Linked DNA regions of Homo sapiens: all the other regions are linked to region 1. Evidence: fine-mapped expression QTL. A gene starts in region 1. Each other region holds a variant in brackets. All regions are shown on one strand. Distances are between the middles of the regions.

What was found. PIP is the estimated chance that this variant, and not a neighbour inherited with it, causes the effect.
Region 2: its variant is fine-mapped to the expression of DCP2 in whole blood (INTERVAL, PIP above 0.99).
Region 3: its variant is fine-mapped to the expression of DCP2 in whole blood (TOPMed, PIP above 0.99). The same link has a PIP of 0.9 or more in Th17 cells and blood mononuclear cells.

Annotation. Positions count from the first base shown.
Region 1 is chr5:112,973,263-112,981,613 of GRCh38, reverse strand. DCP2 (decapping mRNA 2) reads right to left here and starts at 4,816. Exons shown (of 11, transcript NM_152624.6): 1 at 4,628-4,816. The coding sequence starts at 4,680. It overlaps LOC105379126 (a long non-coding RNA gene), which reads left to right and starts at 6,829. Exons shown (of 2, transcript XR_948679.3): 1 at 6,829-6,916. RefSeq lists enhancers at 1-172, 4,366-4,475, 4,586-4,635, 4,646-4,735, 4,806-4,855 and 3 more.
Region 2 is chr5:113,035,958-113,043,957 of GRCh38, reverse strand. MCC (MCC regulator of Wnt signaling pathway) reads left to right here. Exons shown (of 19, transcript NM_001085377.2): 17 at 328-428. Among named protein-coding and RNA genes, the nearest start is that of DCP2, 63 kb to the right of the region's middle. RefSeq lists an enhancer at 1-252. The variant G/A (reference allele first, on the strand shown) is at 3,469.
Region 3 is chr5:113,025,957-113,033,956 of GRCh38, reverse strand. MCC (MCC regulator of Wnt signaling pathway) reads left to right here. Exons shown (of 19, transcript NM_001085377.2): 18 at 4,901-5,023; 19 at 6,475-8,000. The coding sequence ends at 6,655. Among named protein-coding and RNA genes, the nearest start is that of DCP2, 53 kb to the right of the region's middle. The variant G/T (reference allele first, on the strand shown) is at 3,105.

The DNA.
Region 1 (8,351 bases):
CCCGATGGAAAAGAAACTAGCCGCTGAAGACTTGCCTCTACTGTAAAAACTACATATCTATTTACACTGTATCATTATTGTTCAGCTTTTACAATCAACAAATAGCACAAAATATAACAGACGTAGATTTACAAAATAGAATATAAATATTATCAACCCTAATTTTTTTCAAGTTAATCTGGATAGAAGCCGAGGGAATGGGCAAGAAAAAATGAGGCACTAATCATCTCACCATATCAGAGACTCAAGAAATACTGTAAGTTCGTAAAACAAATATAATTTTAAGTATATTAAAGTCACAAAGGGGCCAGCATGGTAGTTCACACCTGTAATCTCAACACTTTGGGAGGTTGAGGCAGGAGGATTGCTTGAGGCTACAAGTACGTTTGAGACCAGGCTGGGCAAAGATCCCATCTCTACCAAAAAAAAATGTATTTAATACCTGGGCATGGTGGTACATGCCTATAGTCCTAGCTACTCAGGAGGCTGAGCCAAGTGGATAGCTTGAGTCCAGGAGTTGGAAGTTGCAGTGAGCTATGATCATGCCTGGGCAATGGTGCAAGACCCTGTCTCTAAAAAAAAAATCATAAAGTCACAAAGGTAAACAATGGAACAATTTAAAATACTGATAGAGACATACTGGAAGTAAGATGGGGGCAATAGTGGGTGTGGTAAACTGAACTCTCATCTAGTATCTACGAAATTGAACCAAATCCTCAATTCAATATAGAAAGTTGATAAAACAAGAAACTGGCACAAGTATATTTTAAAATATGAGGTATCCACCAGAAGAACTCAAAACAAAACAAGTAAAAGTCAATGCCTCAACAGGAATAGAAAAGGGTAGGGAAAGAAACTAAGACTGTTGCCTGTCATTTATAAATCTGTCTGTACTCTAATTTTCAAAACCATGTACATGATTACATATTTTTAATAGTAAAAAGTTGACTTAAGTTTATAAGAGCTGATGTACGAAAATTAAACATTTAATGCGTTCATTCTGTGAATGCTTTTGATCTGTTTTAAAGTTCAAAAGTACGTGTACATATGTGTATGGACGTGTATATAGTAATAGCTGAAATAAAATGCTTTCCATTACAATTTGTTACGGAAAAAACTGCATCACACGAAATGTTATTTTCTCAGTGTTCCTACAAACAGGACATTAGCACAAGGATTGCAATTAGTAGAAAAATGTTCCGGTTGAATTCAACACTAACACGGCTAGCTGAAGATGAGCACAAATTATTTAATTAACCTACGCTATCACCAAAATAGCAGCAACACTAGTTGCCAGAAAATACCTTTCTTCTTTTAACACTAGTGTGGCCTTACTATACCCAACTCTTAAAAAGGGCTTTAAAAAAATTCTAAGCATTTATTTGAATCAACCAACTTTTCAGTTTCTACTTTAAAAACTTGCTTTTCAATTCTTTAATAAGCTAGTTTAAACAGTACTGAAAAACTCTGTATTTGAGTTTTAATATCAAAAATCATGGTTCATCAAAAACAAGTATCACCATAAAATGCTGCAGATTCACCTTTACACATACATTTTAAATTATAAAGCATTTTTTGTTCACTAGAATATTTTAAGACCAAACTCTTCCCTTCCTCTCCTCTAATTCTACTCCACTCAGAAAGTAACCAGTGTTATCAGTTTGGCGCATATTCTTTCGGCATACGAATACATATACCCCTTCCCCACCCACACACACACTTAAAAATTTGTTTTCACAAAAGGCACCAAGGGACTAAATAAGTATTTCACTCAGTATACTGTGTACATCTTTTCAACACACAAATATTTTCCCTCAGTTTACTGTGTGCTAATTGCCTGAGGAACTTAGAATGGCTGCACAATATTCCAATAAATAGAATGTTACATACTAAAGCATCAGCCTTAGGTTATGAGCAGTCTAAAGGTTACAAAGTCACATTTTGAAAATTTAAGTCTGCTGCTCTCCACATCAAAAGGCAAGATTTAACAGAAACATGTAATTTATCAAAAAACAAAGTAACACAAAAGAAAACTTCCTATATACACTAATAATAAGCAACAGAATTGGGGCAAAAAATGAAGGGAGTAAAAACAAGCACCTAGCTTGAATTCATAAATCAAGACGTACATAAAAGAGAGCAAAGAAGTTCAGAAAAATTAACCTCAAATTAAGCTTTATTTTTACAGAAGTTTACCAAATTCTAAGTGTAAAAAAAAAGTTTTAGTCTACAATGAAAAGCTTGAATCTGTAACATTAAAAATATTTCAATTAATCAAAGCTATAAATATTAACTTGAAAATGGCATTTATTTTAAAATCTGAAGTTTTGAGAAATGTTTATTTGGTTTCATTATTACAGCCAGCCCTAATTTTTAAATATATCATATCCTTATTTATACAGCCAAAAACAGTAACTGCAAAAAGAAATTTCTTGAAAGGAAAAAAATGTTACTCCATTCAAAAATATTTGTTTAACAGCTTAAATACACTCACTGGAAAACCAACTATCTTTAACACTTGACAGGTGCTTAACATATTGTTTACAAAATACAACGTAATTATTTTGTGAATAGGTTCCATACATAAAATCGTTAACAGCTGACATCACTTATTTAAATGATGTAATCCTAGATAATATGCAAATTAACCCCAATACTAGAAGGAAGACTAGCTCTGATGTCTGTAAAATGTTTAAGATTACCACATCTTTTTCTAAATCAACTCTTAACCCTATTAACACACAGCTAATTACTGATCACCTTTCTAAATACTTATCTTCAATTTTTTTCTAACTATAAAATGCATAAAAAATATTGGAAACAAAAAATAAAGATCACAATCTCATAATCCCACTATTGGTTGATGTGCGTCTAGTCATTAACCCACATACACATATCAAATTCAGTTTCTTTTTCCTTTTTTTTTTTTTATTTGGGACAAGAAACTAAATGCCTTTTCAGTGGTTCATTTGAATCTACCATACTTCAAAAATTATAAATCTACCATCACCAAAGAAGTACAGCGCCATTTGTATTAGTTGCAAAATTAGGCTATTTACTTTTCTGTATGTACTTTTGTGAGGTTTAAAACGTTAGGCTTATTACTTCTCCTTGGTATGAGAGAAAAAGCACAGGCACTGGAAAGAAAAAGGAATAGGTGTGAAATCTTGATTTTGTGAATTAGGATGAATGTGACCTTATGTAAATTACAAAGTTCCTGAATCTGTTTGCGCAGATGAAAATGGAAATATACTAACTGCACCTACCAAACACGGCTGACTGAGGATTAAATAAAACAATACATGTAAAGGTAGTGCCTGGTGCACAGTAGAAACTCCAGGCCGGGCGCGATGGCTCACGCCTGTAATCCCAGCACTTTGGGAGGCCGAGGCGGGTGGATCACGAGGTCAGAAGTTCGAGACCAGCACGGCCAAGATGGTGAAATCCCGTCTCTACTAAAAATACAAAAATTAGCCGGGTGTGGTGGCGGGTGCCTGTAATCCCAGCTGCTAGGGAGGCTGAGGCAGAGACTCGTTTGAATCCGGAAGGCAGAGGTTGCAGTGAGCCAAGACCGCACCACTGCACACCAGCCTGGGCAAAAGAAAGAGGCTCCGTCTCAAAAAATAAAAACAAAAAAACAAACAAACAAAAAAAACCCCAAAAAACTCCACAAACACCAGTTCTTTACTTTCCATTAAAAAAAACTGCATGAAGGAGATACAACTACTAAAAGCCTGCCTTTTAAAACATAAACACAGTAACTGTGAACGAAAAGGTGTTATCACTTGTAATCACAATCCACACACACTTGGCGACAACTCCGGGTATCACTGCACTCCAAATTTTACCTTCGGAAAATAAGCATTTTTAAGTATCCTACACGTGTTTGGCTATCTGAAATCAGAGTTGACAAGGGGGAAGAATGCAGAAAATTTCTCATCTGAAGTATACACCCTGAGTTAAAACCCCGCGGTTGAGAATTTCCTTTAAAATAGGATTATTAAGGATAAAAAGAAAAGCAGCGCTACACTTTTTCCCTCTCTCCCCCAAAGACAAGTCCAGGGATGAGAAAAAAAAAGTAATTCCTTACAGGAATTTACAGAGAACGCCACGGACAAATAACACGCAGGCGTCAGAATAAGTCCGAAAATTTGCTCCTTGCGCAGGTCCGCGTACCTGGGATCCTAAGCCTTAAATTACTACCCTGGGGGTCTTCCTTCAGAATCGGGGAATGAGACACAGGGAGGAGGGGGTGCACGGCGTGGAAAAGTCACAGAGGCAGAAAAAACAATGGGAGAGGGAGGCGGCGGCGGCGGCAAAACGCTAAGACCCAGGCTCCGGCGAAGCGGCTACGCCTGCGGGAAAGCAAAATAGTTGAGTAACTTAAAAAATGAGGAAATTCCGGGTGTTCTGCGGGGAAGGACGGAGGGCCTTGAGAAACAGGGAGGCTGCGGCGGAAAGAGGGGCGGTGTCGTCGGAGAGCAGGGTCGACGATGGAAAGCGAGCAGCGGCGGGAGCGGAAAGCGAGGACATGGACGTGGGCGGGGAAGAAGACCCAGAGGCCTCTGGGGGTCCGCGAAACTGAGAAAACCCGACGGGGGCGAAAGGGGGTCGGGTAGCGCGGTACCTGCAGAGATCGTCCAGGACGCTGCCGGGAATCTCCACCCGTTTGGTCTCCATGATGAGGACCCACAGCAGGAACAGTGCATCCCGGCTCCGCGCGGCCGGGGACTGACGGTACGGCACTAGGACTCCGGCTCGCCGGAGAGCTGGCAGCCGAGGAAGCCGCGGCAGAGACGACTCCAACGGAGACGAGAAGGGGAAGGGGCGGGACCCGCTCACTTCCGTCCCGCTCCCTCAGCCTTGGACCCCAAGACTGGGCCAAGGCTCGGGGCGGAGCCCCCGGAGTCACGCCCCTGCTCGCTTGAAAGGCCCAATGGGAAGCTGAAGAATTGGGACTCTAAGCACTCTAAGCCAATGAGACGTTTGTTTATTGGTCTGCTACTTCCAATCCGTCTTCAAGCTGCTCAGTTGCTACTCAGAAAACCAACTTCCCGCCGCCTTTGAGGTGGCTACACGCATGCGCACCATGCCTCCTGCGCGCTTCTGGGAAGTTCAGAGGGGTCGGGGCTTAGGTGTAGACCCCGGACACATATCCGGGACTTTGGCATGTTGTGCAGGACCTCGCGGTGACTGAGCTCTTTCCTCTGCAGGGCCGACCCTGAGAATCCGTACAACACAAGAGTATGCTCGCGATTCCTGTCACCAAGTATCTTGCACTTATCGCAGCCCCCACCAACTCCAGGCCAAGAGCTGTGCCTCTTTCACTACAAACCCTTGGAGAGGGTATCCATTTTGGAGGTGGCTCTCCTCTGTGCTTCCTTAGGCACCTGGTTCCAAACATGAAGACAAGGACTTTATCTCAGTATCTGGCACCTAGCAAAATCTTAGAAAATACTGATTTAAGCTGAACTCTGATCTGTATTCCACCCTCTGCACAAAGCAATCCCCACCTGCTCGTCCTTATTCATTCCTCGTCTTGCTTAATGGAGACCAATCCATTTGGGATCTTTGGAGAAACTAGATCCATCTGTTCTTTTTCCTCTTACATCAGACCCACAGGCCCACACACACCTGCTCCGTCACAAGTTTAGTCTGTTCTACCATTTAATCTCCCATCTTTTGTCTAAATTTGTCACATGCCACTGTGTACTTCAGTTTTGCATCATTTCTCCATACTACAGTGAGAGCTGCCTAACCACTGACTCTGCCTCCATTCTTGGCCTGTGCAACTGCCTACATTTTGTTTTGTTTTACTCAGATAGGAACAAGTTATCTTTTCAGTTTCTGCTGTATGATCAAGCCCAAGTTCCTTTGGCATAAGAGGCCCGTCACCATCTATTTTGCTCCCGTTTTCCATCTTTTTTTTCCCCTCTTTCTTGGAGAATTCCTCAAATTTATCTTCCTGACAACTACAGAGTTTTTACTTATTTAGAGTTCTGTTTTGTTCTTCAAATGCCCCTTTCTTGTGGTGTCACATTCTTGCTTTGTATATTTTATTTTATCCTTCTGAGGATATTAATAATAGATTTTGACGTTTTCTTCTCCCTGAGTAGTCTTATTCCTCTCAGCTGCTTTTTGCTATTATCTTGATCTCATCTATCCTATTAGAAGCCTCTGTAGTCCTTGACTATTCACTCACACTTAAGAGTAAGGCCTTAACCTGGAGTCAAGTGCCTTGAAAGCTAATTGGAAGCTCTCACCTTGTAGATGGTACTTGTTTCCTGAGAGCTTCACTGTAGGATGATCTGGCTGAGCTGTTGGTTGGAAACACATGGTATCAGTATCTGTACGTAATTCTTTCTGCTGATGAAATTCCCTAAAGAGAAAATGCTTCCAGGCACAGCTTCATGTATTCTGGGAGTCCAGTACAGAAGCACAGGCTGCAGTATTCCATTTGCTTTATTCAGTACTCCCAGCACAGTCCAAGTCTTATTTTAGATTTCCTAAGAAGCAGGCACTGAGACAAGATTTTGAGTGCAGATAGCCTGTGAGGGAGGTGATCTTGGGAAACATTGGTAGGAGAGCAGGAAAGTGAGTCAAGGAGGGGAGGAAAGCCAAAAGGTTTATTATCAAGGAAATTAGCACTGTGGTTAACTGGAGCTTACTGTCACTGGAGAACTCTGGTGGCCAGTATAAAACATATACCTCAGAGTTATCCCACTCAAGGGGTGAGGGAGATGGGGATTTATATACCAACTTCCTTCATTGGTTGAAGGCAGCTCCTGGGGTCTGCACTCTAGCCTGCTACATGGGCAGCAAGATGGGCTCTGGTGGCCAGAAAAAGTCCTACGGCAAAGAAATGCAGATACTAGCAGTTGGACCTCCAGCCAGTGTAGTGGATGGATTGGTAAAGGTAAGAGTGAGCCCCTTCAGTTCTATTTTGCTGGGTGTGCATTCTACCTGTTCTGACTGAATGTCTTTTCTCTGACTGGGAGGCACCATAGTGGTTTTCTTAGTTGTCTCACTTAGAGCTCAAGTCTAGTTTTTAGAGTATTCTAAATGATGGCAGTGGAACAACAGTTCAAGGCAAAGTGGTGCTCACCCACATGGGCCAATGGTATATTAATAGAAACAAGCAGGTTACCAAGCACTTGCTGAAGCACCTGGAGGAATTCTTCTTACTAGCTTTCTAGTCTCCCAGTTTAGGGGCAGCTATACAACCCCTTTTGGGCTCTTAGAGGCCAGGAAGTCCCCAAACTCTCACATGGTGTTAAACCAATCTGCCTTATTAAGAGTTTCTGAGATGTCTGTGGTCCAAGATATTATCTTGCCCATGCCCCATCCCTCCACTGCCTCCTCACACACAGATTTCCAGGAGCTGGACTAGTGCAACCCTTATAGCAGCCCCCCAAGCCATGACTTCCAAAGAAGCCAACTGTATGGTAGAGGCACCTGACAGCAGTAACGTAAGCAGACCCAGGGGAATGACCCTGTGTGGCAGACAACCTGAATGAGTTTGCAGTTACAACCAAGATTCATTCCTTATCTATGAGGAACATCTGAGCCCTGTGGAATGCAGGCTGCACAGGAGGGCTAGGCCCTTTGTTTTGGGCTAAATGAAAGTTGTCAGGTGGAAGCTGTTAGGGAGAGGGTGCAAAATGAAAATGCTATATAAACTGCATGCTTTCTGCAGGTGATGTTGTTCTCATGTCCAGCTCACCTCTAGTGGACCGCTCTGTATGCAAGTTCCTCTCAATAAACCATATGCCTCATTTGCTGGCTCTGGGTCTCTTCTTCAGCCTCTTGAACCTAGTGCCATCCCTGTTAAAGTGAATAGGGACACCAAGGCCTCAATTCCATCTAATTGTTCACAGGACCCAGCTGAGAATGACAAAGGGGAGCTTAGAGTTGAGGTAACAGGAGAACAGGAGATGCTAGGGTTCTTAAATTATAATACTGATTTGATTTTTAAATAATTAGGTTGATTAAAACCTTTATAGTTTTAAAATATGCTATTTCATTTAGTCTTTTTTTTGGAACAAGATCCCACTCTGTTGCCCAGGCTGGAGTGCAGTGGCATAGCTCACTCCTGGGCTCAGTCTCCCACCTCACCCTCCCAAGTAGCTAGGAATACAAGTGCGCACCACCAGGCCTGGCTAATTATTTTTTTAAAAACTTTGTAGAGACAGGGGTCTCACTAGGTTGCCTATGTTAGTCCTAAACTCCTGGCCTCAAGCAATCCTCCTTCCTCAACTTCCCAAAGCACTGGGATTACAGGCATGAGCCACCGTGCCTGGCCTCATTTAGTCTTTATTACTACATGAAATAGACAAAGATTAATGAGGCTT
Region 2 (8,000 bases), 63 kb before region 1:
TCCTGCCTCAGAGAGTATTTGTGGAGATTAAATGATTGAATGCATATGGCATGCTTAGACCAGTGCCTGGCATCAGCGGCTGCTCAGAGCATACTGGGTGTCATCCCCACCGCACTGGCCAGTCTGCAAAAGGAGCCAGCGGTCTGGGAGCAGAGGGGCCTCTTTGGCTTGCTGCCAGGCTTTCCCCTTTGGCATGACCTGAGGGCGCCACCCGGTGCCCACACTGCTGCCATCACTGCACGAGCCACCTACCGCGCTCTGCTGCAGGCTTCCAGGGTGCTGCCGGCTTGGATTCAGGCCTAACTGGAATGTGTTTGCTGTTGTCAGGAGTGTGCTGATGCTGCCTCCCCAGCTCTGTCCCTAGCCGAACTCAGGACAACGTGCAGCGAGAATGAGCTGGCTGCGGAGTTCACCAACGCCATTCGTCGGTAAGCACCCTTTCCCCACCCCAGCTGGTGTTTATCCTGGGCATGGAGACTTTGTTCTGAGTTCTCTTTGCTGCTCCCAAAAGGAGAAGGTGCTGATGTGTTCCACTTTACCCATGTCTTGGAAGCCAGAAATGGAGAAGGCCTGTTGGTGCCAGGCCTTTCAAAACAGTGAGAAGAGAGAGCACTTAAGAGACAGCACTTAGGCAGTCATTGATTCATCAGTGAATAGGAAAATTCCTCTTCCTTTCCTTTTCTGTTATGTTGTTGCATTGGCTAGAAACTTCCGGGACAGTGTTAACTAGTGAGGTGAAAACAGGCACTCTTACCTTGTTTCCAACTTCAGCAGGAATACTTTCCTTCAGCGTTGGTAGTGTGAAAAAGCTTTGTGTATTTATTTAGTTCTGGGAAATTTTCCTCTATTATTTCAGTGTTTCTTTCCCCTCACCGCCCCCCAGTTCTTTATCTCCTCCTGCAAGGAGAAACAGATGCTGATTCATCTAGCTCTGTCTTCCGTATCTCCACTTTTCATACCTTCTTTCCATCACTGCTTTTTCCCCGGGTGCTACAGCAGCATTGTCCAGCAGAAATGTAATGTGAACCACATATGTACTTGTAAATTTTCTAGTAGCCACATTAAAAAGAACAAAGACAGCTGAAATTCCCTTTAATAACATTTTATTTAACATAATATGTCTACATTATTTTAACATATAGTCAATATTTTCTCAAACTATTAATGAAATTTTTTTTTAACCAAGTTTTCAAAACCTGGTATGTATTTTACACCTCAGCATATCTCAAATTCAGACATTTCAAGTTCTCAAGAGCCACATATGGTTGTGGCTGCCCTATCAGATAGTTGCAGTTCTGGAGAGACAGATTTTTTGGCTAAATTTTCCAGCTCACTAATTTATTCTTTAGTTAGGTTCATTGTGATGTTTGACCTATATGTTGAGTTATTTTGGTGATTAAATCTGTCATCTCTTTTTTAGTGATATGCATCTCTTTGAGGATTTTTATAATGCTTAAATTTTTTTTTTTTTTTTTTTTTTTTTGAGAGAGGGTCTCATTCTGTTGCCCAGGCTGGAGTGCAGTGACACAATCACAGCTCACTGCAGCCTCAATCTCCTGGGCTCAAGTGATCCTCCCACCCCAGCCTCCCAAGTAGCTAGGACCACAGGTGCATGCCCCCACACCTGGCTAATTTTTTTTTTTTTTTTTTTTGAGACAGGGTCTCCCTACGTTGCCCAGGCTGGTCTCAAACTCCTGGGCTCAAGTGATCTTCCCATCTTGGCCTCCCAAAATGTTGGGATTACAGGCATGCAGTGCCCTGCCCGGCCCTTAAATTCCTTCATCTTTTTTGTCTGCTGTATTAATTCTGTTTCTTCACATGTAATTCTTTTCATAGTTGAGTTTTGTGACTCTTTCTTGGTGTTTGCTTTCTTTAAATATTCAGCGGTTCTTGTTTGTGTGTTCATTCTTGTATTTTAAATTCCTAGGTCACCTGTTCGAGAGGTTTTGTTTTTGTTTTTTGAGACAGAGTCTCGCTCTGTCGCCCAGGCTGGAGTGCAGTGGTGCGATCTCGGCTCACTGCAATCTCGGTCTCCCAGGTTCAAACAATTCTCCTGCCTCAGCCTCCCAAGTTAGCTGGCACTACAGGCACACGCCACCACACCTGGCTAATTTTTTGTATTTTTAGTAGAGATGGGATTTCACCATGTTGGCCAGGCTGGTCTTGAACTCCTGACCTCATGTGATCCAACCGCCTTGGCCTCACAGTGTGCTCTGATTACAGGCATGAGCCACTGCACCCGGCCATCCCATTTGAGAGTCCTGCTTCTACTTATTACAGTCTGCCACCCAGAAAATGTAGCCAGGTCCTTCAAAGTGCTGTCAGCTGGGTCATATCAGAAGCTGTCTCCTGGGCTTTCTGTGTCTCCTGGCTAATAACAGCCCTCTAGTCTGCGTATCTGACCCAAGCATTTGGTCCCCTCCTGTTCTGGTAGCCAACACCTCTGGTTGGAGCACCTCTGAATCCCCTTCTTCCTTTTGCAGAATATTTTTCTGCATTCATTTTGCATTGTGGTTTTCTCTTCAGGAAGAAGAAAACATCTGCCTTTCATTTTTTATGATTGAGCATGATTTCTGATATACAAAGAGCACTCCTTTCTAAGATGCTCAGGGGTTTTAAAAAATGTCTTTCCTGCCATTTCTGGGGATTTAGGGTTGGAGGGGAAGGGTACAGTGTATTTTCAGTCAGCTCACTTGATCCAGCGGGCCTGTTTATAGGATGGCCTCCAAGCTGATGGTGGATGGAAGGTTGCCTTGTGGGGAACTTCACTACCTTCCTGATTTATTGTCACTTTTTGTCTTTCCTTCCAAGTTGTAATAGCTCTGTTTGTACTTTGCCAGAGCCTCTGGCCGTGCAGTTAAATGGCAGTTGCTCTGCTTGGGGCGGGAAGAGAAAAGCTGCGCAGAAAAATGCCCTCAACAAATCCTAATGACTTAACTGTGCCAGAAACACGGGATGGAAATCCCACTCGCTATTTCCAGTGGGAGCCATTTGGATATTGTATCTGTAAGCTAAGCCCTTAAGTTTTTCAAATTCCCCAAACCTCAGAGGCCTTTGCTGGCACAAGGAAGATGCAGATTGTGCTGACTAAACATAAAGAGACTTCATTTGTTCTGTCAGTCACAATGGATTTCCAATAACCAGCCTTAAGTTGGTTAGCATGGATTTCTAATCAAGACCCAGGTGGATGGAGCCAAGAACAAACTTACAGAGGTAAAGGAAAAAGGAAAATAACATAATGATACTGTAAATATAGCTTAGAAACTGGGGTCATCACTTCATGAGGGGATACAATATACACACCTCAGGGCTGCAGTTTGGGTTTGTATTATATACCTTGATGAAATGATTCCTGAGGTTTTTATTTTAAAAAATCAAATGGAAACGAACACCTTTTTTGAAGGTATTAAATCACAGCCGAGCTTATGGTTGAGGTCAGCTGGGGGAATCTTACCAGCATTTTCAGCA[G/A]TATTTCTCCCTTGAAAAAAGGATGGTGCCAGACACCAAAACTGTAGGCGCAGGCATCCAGACTGAAAAGATCAGGTGTCGCTAAGGGAAGAGGAAGAGGCTAAGCCATGGGCTGTCCTTAAGGAGAACCAGCCATCCCAGGGAAGGTGCCCTGTGACATTTCAGTCACTGGTTCTGGGTCATGACACTGTCCCCAACCCAACCTCCCCTTACCTGGCCAGCCCTTGTCACTCAGCCCTGGCTCTCTCAGTGTATCTTCTCCTAACTTTCTTCTGTTTGGAACAAAACCAAGGCTACATGCCACCCCGCCTTTACTGTATGTATAACTCCCATCTGGTCTGATTTCGTTCCCCCTACTTCGGTGAACATTTATTGCAGTTTGTTGGCTGTGGTATTGCCATAAAACCCCATCTGGATGACCAGGTTTCCAGTCTGGCACACGAGATGTTTTCTTAACAGGGTATTTTGTTTTCTCTCTTGTCCATCCAGCCTGTGTGCTGTAAAAACCTTCTCCATCTCAGATCTGTCTCTCACCCTTGGTCCTAGTAAAATTTGACTGATCTTTCCACCAAGTAAGTGATCTATAAAAAGGCAGCTAAATAAGGGAATTTTCAGAAATGACTCCTTTTTTGTACTCACATGGTGTTTGTGCAGCCCGCCCTCGGGACCCAAGCACAGCTGAGAGGAGCAGACTAGTTCATCTCCGTCATATTCTTGGGAGGCAGCCGGGAGCAGGTGCTGCTCTCCATGTGATCCTGGGGTGGGTTGGGGGGGGGGGCGCGGAGTGGGACGGCAAGGCTGAGTGATCTCTCAAGGTCACACAGTGAGGCAGTGGGGAAGTCTGCATGTTTCTACATTCTCTATGGGGACCCCTTGTGCCCCACATGTGCTGGCAGCATTGGGCTTGCTTGCCGATGAGTGAGCTGAGCCCACTCGTTTATCTGAAGACTACCTGCTGTGTGGCTGGTCTGGGCAGTGAGAAACCTCTATGCCTCCAGTAAACAGCCATGTCTTAGTCTGTCAGTGCGAAAGGCAAATGAGGTGCCATGGCGGGAGGCGGACTTCCTTAAACACACAGAGCTGTGAAGCAATGGCATATGTCAGCCTAAGTCATGCTGATAAAAAGGTAAGGATCTGAGTGAGCCAGGTGCTGTTGCATACACCTGGAGTTCCAGCTACTGGGGAGGCCAAGGCAGGAGCATCCCTGGAGGCCAGTTCAAATCCAGCCTGGGCAACATAGCGAGATCTCGTCTTTAAAAAATAAATAAGTAAAAAATATCTTTTTAAAGTAAGGATCTGTGCTTCCTCAGTGCTGGGAGGCAGGAAGTAGGTGCGCTGCTCCTCACCATGATACATCACCTGAGCCATGGTGAGGAGCAGAGCATGGTGCTGCCTCACAGGCACTCGCCTTTCACTCTACCCAGGAGCAGGGTGGGGCGAGCCTCACATACTACCTGCAGGAGTCAGCGCCCTGCCCTCCAGGAGGCTGCGGTCATTTAGTCACCGACCATCCAGGGGCTGTGCCCAGCCCTCCAGGGAACTGGAATATGCCATCTGTGTCTGCGTGTTTGCCAGATGGTTCTGTAAAATGCCACGTTAAGGCAATCGACAAATCACAGTGGCCGTTCTGTCCAGGGACAGGATGCCCCTGACTCATCCACCAGAAGAGGGCTTCCTTTCCCCTCTCTGCTGAATAAGAAGTAGGCAAGCTGCCACTGCTGGAAGACAGGGTTGTGTGCCAGAGCCCTGTAAGGATATATCCAGTGGCAGGAGGGCCTTGTCTGGTCAGTGTGATCGATCACACCTGCCGTGAGACTGCTCTTCCTCTTCTGCGCCTCTGGGGCTTCAGTCTTGCATCTGCTTTTGTCCTGGCCCCACCCAATGCCATTCCCCAAACATTCACATCAGGTGACTTACAGCTATCTGTAAAATGGATCCGGATGTTCCCATCCTCCACCTCCCAGCAGAAATGACACCCTCTCCCACTTCTTTTTTGGTTCCTAGCGCCATGAATTTCCTTCTCCCATGGAACATTTCATTGCTCATTTCTTAATATGCCTGGTTCTACCCCCAACTCCCCTCCTTAACCCTCAGTCCCCACACAGAAAGAGAGTCCTTTTAGGGCCAGGGATTGTGGTTTACTCAGCCAAGTACATGACTCCAACTCTCATGTCTTCAGCTGTTCCTTCTAAATGGTCCCTAAATTATCTCAACCTCATGCCCACTGGACATCTCCACCCAAATATGCTAAAGCCTCAAAACAGCACATCCAATACAATTCTGTTTCTTCCTGCCCTTTGATGAATTCCTATTTATGTTAAAAATCCCCTTCTCCTAATGATCCAGGATTATAACTTGTAAGTCTCCCCTCCCTACCTCTCGTCAGCAGGTCATAATTCCTTAAAATCCCTTCCATTCCTTTCCATCGCACTGACCCTCAGAACCCAGAGAGTAGTGTCCTAATGGGTCATTCTGTAGTTTGATTCTGCCGCCAGAATACCTTAAAACACACTTCGGATTAGGGTGCTCTGCATAAGCACCTTCAGTGCCTTGGCACTCAAGATTGTCCGTAGGTCCCTAACTTAACTTCCTAGCCCATATTTCAAATGTTTCCCCATGCTTGATCTGTAGTCCAGCCCCTCTGGACAATTCATCTTTCCAAGAGCACACCCTTTGCTTTATCCCTGATTCTCCCTCATCCTTTCCAATCAGAATGCTTACCATCTTGAAGCTTCCTTCAGTCACCTCCATCATGTATCTTCCCGCTATTCTCTGAGTCTTCTCTGGTACTTTTTTGAGACAGGGTCTCACTCTGTCATCCAGGCCGGAGTATAGTGGCACAATCACAGCTCTGTGCAGACTCAACCTCCCCAGGCTCAAGCAGTCCTCCCACCTAAGCCTCCCAAGTAGCTTGGACTACAGGTGCACACCACCACGCCTGGCTAATTTTTGTATTTTTAGTAGAGACAGGATTTCACCATGTTGCCCAGGCTGATCTCAAATTCCTAGGCTCAACTGATCCGCCCGCCTCAACCTCACAAAGTGCTGGGATTACGGGCATGAGCCACTGTGCCCGGCCCTGACTACTCTTTACCCATCAGTGGCCCACAGAGCCCTTGACTGTTACCAGTGCCTTCGAAAAAGCCAGCGAGACTCCTCAGAGTTCAAATCCATGTCCAAGTTCATACACCATCCACCCAACTGTAGAAAACTTCCAGACTTGTAGGAACCAACATTTGTCCCTGAATGGAAAAAGGATGACCCTAGTTGACCCCTATTTCAGCAGCTGTGGATGAATACTGTTTTTGAGCCACACAAAGAGTGGGATAAAATGAAAAGGGAAGTGGGTGGGGTGCTTTTTAAAAGGGAGCCCCCACTGAACAAATAAGCAGCAGAATCTTCACTGGTTCATGAGGAGGACCATTATTGTAAAAGGTGCTGTTTTATTTAAACTTGCTGATTCTTCATATTTGGTTGATGTATAAAAGCAATCAAGCAATGGAAGTTGTGCTTAGAATTCCATAAAAGCACATGGGTCTGCAGGACATTAATGGAATACAAAGTGTGCCTGTGGCTTCATTAGCACGCAAATAAACTGCTGAGCCCCAGAGCCAAGTGCCTAGAAGCACAGAGGGTGAAGACTGAGGCTCACTCAAGGGATGGAGGGGTTGTTGCTTGAGTAATTGAGATTTATTTTACTTTTTTGCCATCCCTCCAGCATCCCCAAAGCTCAAAGAGAAGAAGGCCTTGCCTGGGACCTCATAAAGGCAGAGTGGTAGAGGGCACTGGAACACCCAGCAGCCACTGGCAAGGCCTGTGAAAACTCCAGATGGATTTCCTGGACAAGAAACATGTTCATAGCAAAGTCTGGGCAAAAAAAAGTTAGACTGCTGTTGTCCTTGTGCTGCTACTCCTGGCAAAACACAGCCACCGACATACCTGCAGAACCTCATTATCTGGGGACACTTGAGCCTTAGTTCTGCAGGGCTGCACTGTTAAGCAGAGGTCTTGTTTATCTTGCACTCTACTGTATTCCCTTTGTGAATCACAGGCTACTACCCAGTGAGATGCGTAAGGGCACAGGCTCTGCAGACAGAATCCCAGGTGGGAGTCCCAGTTCTGCAGGGACTAATCTTAAGTTCCTCATCTATAGGCCAGGCGCGGTGGCTCACGCCTGTAATCCTAGTACTTTCGGAGGCCAAGGCAGGTGGATCACCTGAAATTAGGAATTCAAGACTGGCCTGGCCAACATGGTGAAACCCTGTCCCTACTAAAAATACAAAAATGAGCTGGGCATGGTGACAGGTGCCTATAATCCCAGCTACTCAGGAGGCTGAGGCAGGAGAATCACTTGAACCCTAGGGGTTGGAGGTTGTGTTGAGCCCAAGATCGCACCACTGCACTTCAGACCGGGCGAAAGAGTGAGACTCCATCTCAAAAAAAAAAAAAAAAAAAAAAAAAAAAAAAAAAAAAAAAAGTTCCTCATCCTTAAAAATGAGAATCATGATAGTACTGACTTCCAAGGTTATGTG
Region 3 (8,000 bases), 53 kb before region 1:
TGTGATTTGTGCCACTGTACTCCAGCCTGGATGACAGATCAAGACCCTGTCTCTTAAAAGTCCCACCCTGGCTCTGCGGTTAGAGTCATACGACCTTTTATCACCAGGAATAAGAAGCCCAAAAGCTGAAGTGGGAAGACGTGGAACTGAAATCCATGTGTGTACTGGGGGACTTCAGTTGTCACAGTCATTACAATCCAGCATTGTTTTTGCTTGATGCTATGGGGTATATTTGTGAGTGCCAATACTACTGGGCATAAAAAAGGAATGGATTATGTATTTCTGGCCATTCCAGGAAACACTGTATGAATACATTACTATTGAAGGTGCATATGGAACGTGTAGTGTTGAATTTTTGCTTTCTCATTTGTGTGAAGCCAAGAAAGCTTGTTTTGGCCTAACTTATGTACCCAAACCATATAAAATCTTAACGAAAGGCTAAGCAAATTTAAATTAGAAGGAGAAAGGAACAAGAATGGTTGAGGTTTCAATGTGACTTGAATTAGTAAGCTATGTTTCTTTGCATTTTCCATGTCATCGTTTGAAAATCTGAGGAAAACTGTAGACTTGATAAAGTGAGCCCCGTGCTTGCAATTTTGCATATAAATTCAGAAAGTCAGTTCCAGGAGTAACTGAAGCTCATCCTCAGGTCCAGGTGAGGAACTCTTCTGCCTTACGCCAGTCCCTCAAGCTTGCCTGATGACAAGAGTCAGCTGGGGCCCTTGTTAAACTGCAATTCCTGGGTCTCAACCGAAACCTACTTAGTCAGAAGCCAGGGAAAATATCTGGTAATGCTGTTACTGGAAAATATTACCGATCCAGACCCCAAGAGAGGGTTCTTGGATCTTGTGCAAGAAAGAATTCAGGGCAAGCCCACAGAGTAAAATGAAAGCAAGTTTATTAGGAAAGTAAAGGAAAAGAATGGCTACTCCATAGAGCAGCCTTGGGGGCTGCTGGTTGCCCATTTTTATGGTTACTTCTTGATAATATGCTAAACAAAGGGTGGATTATTCATACCTCCCCTTTTTAGACGTTATAGGGTAACTTCCTGATGTTGCCATGGCATTTGTAAACTGTTGTGGCGCTGGTGAGAGTGTAGCAGTGAGGACGATTAGAGGTCATTCTTGTGGCCGTCTTGGGTTTGCTGTTTTGGCTGGCTTCTTTACTGCAATGTTTTATCAGCAAGGTCTTTATGACCTGTATTTTGTGCTGACCTCCTATCTCATCCTGTGACTTAGAATGCCTTAACCATCTGGGAATGCAGCCCAGTAGGTCTTAGCCTCACTTTTACCTAACTCCTATTTAAGATGGAGTTGCTCTGGTTCACATGCCTCTGACAGCATTAAACAATTGGTCTAGAGCAGCACTGTCCACTGGTGATATAATATGATCCACAAATGCAAGGCATGTATGTAATTTTAAATTTTCTAGTAGTCCCATGAAAAAAGTAGAGACACACATGAAATTAATTTTAATAACAATGTAACCCAGTATGTCCAAAATATCTCAACATGTAATCAGTATCCTTTTTTTTTTTTTTTTTTTTTTGATACAGAGTTTCATTCTTGTTTCCCAGGTTGGAGCGCAGTGGCGCGATCTCGGCTTACTGCAACCTCCACCTCCCAGGTTCAAGCGATTCTCCTGCCTCAGGCTCCCAAGTAGCTGAGATTACAGGCAAGCGCCACCACACCCAGCTAATTTTGTATTTAGTAGAGACAGGGTTTCTCCATGTTGGTCAGGCTGGTCTTGAACTCCCGACATCAGGTGATCCGCCAGCCCCGGCCTACCAAAGTGCTGGGATTACAGGCGTGAGCCACAGCGCCCGGCCCCTGTAATCAGTATTTTTTAAACTAAATAGATATTTTACATTTTTTTGTGTTGTCATGAAAACAGATCAACCAACCCAAATTTTAGGTTTAAGTTTACAGTTTGGCCTCGTCTTTGCATCTTTAAATAAATGAGCATCATAGTTCTTTCCTGGGGTTTCTCCCAGCGGTTCACTCCCATTCCCTTCTGAAGGCCAGGCAGTTCTAAGCTCCCAGCAATGGCTACTCCCCACTCCTGCGCCACAACCCTAAGCTGGGGTTGGCCTGGGTCTGAGAGACTCTCTCCTGCCCTTCTGGGGTTCTATCCTCCTTTGGAGCCTGCCAGATCCAGAAAGTTCCCTCTGGTCCCCTGAGGGCCTGGGTGCTGGGGAAGGAAGCGTTTTGTCTTGTGGAAGGGCTGGGATTTCCAGTCTCCCTGTTCACTGAGTGTGGATAGGAGTGGGGGAGGGAGGGGATTTGACTGCTCTAGGTAGCATCCCAGAGTTTTTTGTTGTGAATTTCTTATTGAGTTTGTGGTTACATTTTTAACTCTTCAGTATTTTTTTTCCTTTTACACTATTAATCAACATTAGAATGAAAGATAAAGGGCTCTAAATGGTAATAAAATGTAGGGCAAAAAACCCTTCCCTGCTGTTTTTAGCTGGAGGGAAGCAGGAGTCCCTGGCTTCCCTCCGCTGGAGGAGGACTGCTGGGAAGGCCGAGGAGGTGTTGGGGGGCGGGTGGGGAGGAAAGGAGCCCCCCTCCTGCAACACCATCCTCACTGCTGGTAGGAAATGCTGCCACTCTCCAATGCCGGGAGGAAATGCAGCCAGATCCGAGATGTCCTGGAGGCTGCTAGGGCCCAGGAAAAACACACGCTCCTTCCAGCTTAGCAGAGGCGGGTAGGAGGATTTACTGAAAAATGAGTTCTGGGCTGAGGGCTGGTTGCTAGACTTCCCTTAAAGATCCTGCCCCTTCCATCCTCTCTCCCAAAAGCAGGCCTGGATTTTACGTTGTAATTCCTTTCTTCATTGATCAGTTTGGAGAGCTTGACTTACCCTCATAGTAGCTAAAGGCAGAAATGTAAAAGATTAGATATATGAAAAGCTAGGAAAGGAGAACCAGGGTCTGAACAGTTTGGGCAGCAGAAAGGAGCCTTCTACCCCGACGTCACATTCCCATGCCGTTCCTACATGACTCTAACTCGCACTTTACAGAAAATATACAAAATTGTAAAAATATCTGGCAATGCAAAAGTGAGTGAAGTAGAAAATGAAAGCCTCCCATCAACCCCCTTCA[G/T]GAGTTAAGCACTGTTGAGTTTGTGTTTCACCTTCTAGTCTTATTACAGTGTCAGATATTCACACTCAGCTTTTCAGTTTTTACAAAAATGGCATCTTTAGAACTCACCCTTTTTGCTTAATGTATCAGATATCCTCCCATGCCAGTGCATGGCCATCTGATTTTTTTGTTTGTTTTGAGATGGTCTCACTCCGTCACCCAAGCTGGAGTGCAGTGGCAGGATCATGGCTCACTGGTCTTGACCTCCTGGACTCAAGCGATCCTCCCAACTTAGCCTCCTGAGTAGCATGGACTACAGGCATGACCCACCATATCTGGCTAAGTTTTATATTTTTTTGTAGAGATGGGGTTTCACCATGTTGCCCAGGCTGGTCTTCAATTTCTGAGCTCAAGTAATCCACATTCCTTGGCCTCCTAAAGTGCTGAGATTACAGGCATGAGTCACTGCCCCCAGCCCTCCATCTGCATTTTAAAAATATTTTTCAAGCAGAGCATTTCGGTAGCATGGGTAGGCCGTGATTAACCAGTTCCCTGCTTGTCTCCCTTTATTAGGCATTATTGTAACCAATGCCTAAGTGAATCCAAATATAAGTGATGTATCTTTAGGAACCTGTGCTCCTGATATCTCTGTAAAATCAATTCCTAGAAGTGAAGTTGCTTAGTCAAGGGGCATGTTCATTTATTATTTTGCTAGATCCTACCCAACTGTCTTATAAATTAATCATGCAAATTTACATTCTACATACAGTGAGTCCTTTTTAAACGAATTCCTTCCCTAAATCCTGGTTTCTTAATATGCCCAAAGAATCAAATACATTACCTTCAGTAAGTTGTTCTAAAGCTGTTTTAACAGTCACTAGAAGCTGTCACCCAGGCACGGTGCTCAGCACTGGGGGTGCATTGGGGAATCAAACCAAGTAAAGTCCTTGCCACTCTAGAACCCAACATGACCATGGGGGAGCGTCATGGCTCCAGCACGTAATACGGTGACATAGTGCTGAGTGTGCTACTAAGTGGAGTAACACTGTGCATGTGATAGAAGGATCTTGGAAGGGAGTCAGAGTAGTCGAGAAGGCTTTGATTAGTGTTTCCCTGCTGGGTCTTGTGGGAATTAGAGGAAGGCAATGAGCTGACTGGATACTGGAAACCTCCCTGAACTGACTCTAATTAGCTTGGGTTACCAAAGTAGTAGAGGATCCACAGAACTTGAAGCTGCTTTGCCTGTGGAGGGCACGTAGTCAAAAGTGCAAATGTAATTTCATGGGAAATAAGGACCCTTACAATGAAGAGAGTATCATATCTACTCCCTCTACCAATTTTTTGGTTTTTGGCAAGGTGGGATCATGTTGGTCTCAATGAGTGGGGACCTGTTCAAGGTAGGTTGCTAAACCTGAGTGGTTCAGGAGATACTTAGGACACCTGAAAAAGAAGGGGATGGAGACAGACGGGGGTTTGTGGTCAGGCCGCACTCATTGCTGAGGATCTGGTATGCCAATAGTAGAAAGGAACTTCTAGATTAGCTAGAAGACTAGAAACAGAAATTCCTGTCTTGTTTTCTTTGACACATAAGATCTTTAAAAAGCCCTTGTCATTGAAGAAATGGGTTTAAATCTGCATTTGAGAATGAATTCATTCAGGTGACAGTAGCGCTGTTGGGCCCTTTAGTATCTTTTCTCTCCCTTGCCTTTAGGCTTTGCAAGCTAAACCTTCCTCTTTCTGTCACCACTTCCCAGGGAGTGGGCACCTCCAGCATCATCTCAAACTACTCCTGGCATATTTTGTCTCCTTTAATATAGAGAAAAGAAGTTGAAGGCCAGAGTTCAAGAGCTGGTGAGTGCCTTGGAGAGACTCACCAAGAGCAGTGAAATCCGACATCAGCAATCTGCAGAGTTCGTGAATGATCTAAAGCGGGCCAACAGGTAAAAATCTCCCTATACCCAGCCCCCACCGCCCTCCACCTGTGGTACTTGGACTGACACCCTGCATGTAGACACAGCACCAGGGATGGACATTTCCCTAACTCTTAAGAACTAACTCTAGAAAGTGGGTGAGTCCCTACCTGGCTCTCTAAGAGCCTGGTCTTCCTTAGAGTGGCATCTCCCAAGATGGTCTGTGGAAACTAAGAAATGCTCAGTAACAACATCCTTTGGCCAAATGTAGCATACTGTGGTATATGCCTCCTGGTATTATGTATCTTAAATGTTCTGAGAAGTCATATAATAAAAAATCTGTTTAAGCCAGTATTTTCCAAACAAAATTAGCCATGGAATTTATTTGAGCAACACAATATCCACTGGAATACTTCAGGAAATACTGCTCTAAGACTGGGCTCAGGACTCTTCTCTATAAAAAACGGAGGACCTCAGAGAGCTTTTGTTCCTGTAAGTTGTATTTATTGATACTTCTCATGTTAGAACTAAAACCAAGATAAATTATTTAAAGTTTTTATTATTTCATTTACAAAAAAAAAAATGGCATTTTTATGAAAAACTATTTTCCAAGAAATAATTAGAAAAGTGGCACTGGTCTTACAATTCTGCAAATCTTTAATGTCTGGCTTAATAGAAGACAGCTAGGTTCTCACATTTGCTTCTGTAGTCAACATTATGTGGATGTATATTGAGAACACCTGGCATCATCCAGCTCTATAGTTGGAAATAAAAGCTCAAGACCTCACAGACCTCCTGAATGGGTTTTACAAATCTCTGGGGTGAGTCCTCAGACTATCTGGGAGAACTGCAGCTGTAAGGGTAATGACTGTACATGGAATGGACCTACCTGGGCTCACTGTATACCCTACCACCAGGCTCTGGTGGGAACAGTTCAAAGGCCTGTATATTCCATGTTTGGCTTTGCAGCATTGGCTTATGGCCTAATTTAATATTCCGAGTCCCACCAGCCCAAAGCATAAAGGGAAGGTGGAACAAGAACAACCTCTCTGCTCTCGTCCCAGGTATGGTCACTTTGATTGCAGTGCCTTAGGAGTACTCTCCTGTAAGATACACTTGACTATGTTGCAAGCAACCATGGAGCAACAAATAGACCCACTATTTGTATTTATCCGTTTTGGACTGGGCCAATTTGGATTGCTGGTTTGACTCTTAGAACCCCTTCTAATATGTGAGAGTGACCAGCCTCTAGCAATCCGGCTGGATTCATCAGGGTTAAGCCAGTAGGTGACTGGCCGTTGAGTGTTGACATCCTGGTGCTGTCCCTCCTCTGACCACTAGATTTCAGATTCTTACCGAAGAGGATGAGTGATCTTTCTTCAGAGCAGTGCTCACTAGATCTGGTTATCCAGTGGACAGGATGGTGTCACGATGCTACTTAGGATGAATCTTAATACCAATTTCCCTTCATTCCCACCTAGCAACCTGGTGGCTGCCTATGAGAAAGCAAAGAAAAAGCATCAAAACAAACTGAAGAAGTTAGAGTCGCAGATGATGGCCATGGTGGAGAGACATGAGACCCAAGTGAGGATGCTCAAGCAAAGAATAGCTCTGCTAGAGGAGGAGAACTCCAGGCCACACACCAATGAAACTTCGCTTTAATCAGCACTCACGCACCGGAGTTCTGCCCATGGGAAGTAAACTGCAGCAGGCCACTGGGGACAGAAGGGCCCATGTACTTGTTGGGAGGAGGAGGAAAGGGAAGGCTGGCAGGTAGGTCGGCACTTGGACAATGGAGTGCCCCAACTCAACCCTTGGGGCGACTGGCCATGGTGACATTGTGGACTGTATCCAGAGGTGCCCGCTCTTCCCTCCTGGGCCCACAACAGCGTGTAAACACATGTTCTGTGCCTGCTCAGCAGAGCCTCGTTTCTGCTTTCAGCACTCACTCTCCCCCTCCTCTTCTGGTCTGGCGGCTGTGCATCAGTGGGATCCCAGACATTTGTTTCTGTAAGATTTTCCATTGTATCCTCTTTTTGGTAGATGCTGGGCTCATCTTCTAGAATCTCGTTTCTCCTCTTTCCTCCTGCTTCATGGGAAAACAGACCTGTGTGTGCCTCCAGCATTTAAAAGGACTGCTGATTTGTTTACTACAGCAAGGCTTTGGTTTCCAAGTCCCGGGTCTCAACTTTAAGATAGAGGCGGCCATAAGAGGTGATCTCTGGGAGTTATAGGTCATGGGAAGAGCGTAGACAGGTGTTACTTACAGTCCCAGATACACTAAAGTTACAAACAGACCACCACCAGGACTGTGCCTGAACAATTTTGTATTGAGAGAATAAAAACTTCCTTCAATCTTCATTTTGGAGGCAGGGCTGGGAAGGGAGCGCTCTCTTGATTCTGGGATTTCTCCCTCTCAGTGGAGCCTTATTAATATCCAAGACTTAGAGCTGGGAATCTTTTTGATACCTGTAGTGGAACTAAAATTCTGTCAGGGGTTTCTTCAAGAGCTGAGAAACATTATTAGCACTTCCCGCCCCAGGGCACTACATAATTGCTGTTCTGCTGAATCAAATCTCTTCCACATGGGTGCATTTGTAGCTCTGGACCTGTCTCTACCTAAGGACAAGACACTGAGGAGATACTGAACATTTTGCAAAACTTATCACGCCTACTTAAGAGTGCTGTGTAACCCCCAGTTCAAGACTTAGCTCCTGTTGTCATGACGGGGACAGAGTGAGGGAATGGTAGTTAAGGCTTCTTTTTTGCCCCCAGATACATGGTGATGGTTAGCATATGGTGCTTAAAAGGTTAAATTTCAAGCAAAATGCTTACAGGGCTAGGCAGTACCAAAGTAACTGAATTATTTCAGGAAGGTCTTCAATCTTAAAACAAATTCATTATTCTTTTTCAGTTTTACCTCTTCTCTCTCAGTTCTACACTGATACACTTGAAGGACCATTTACTGTTTTTTTCTGTAGCACCAGAGAATCCATCCAAAGTTCCC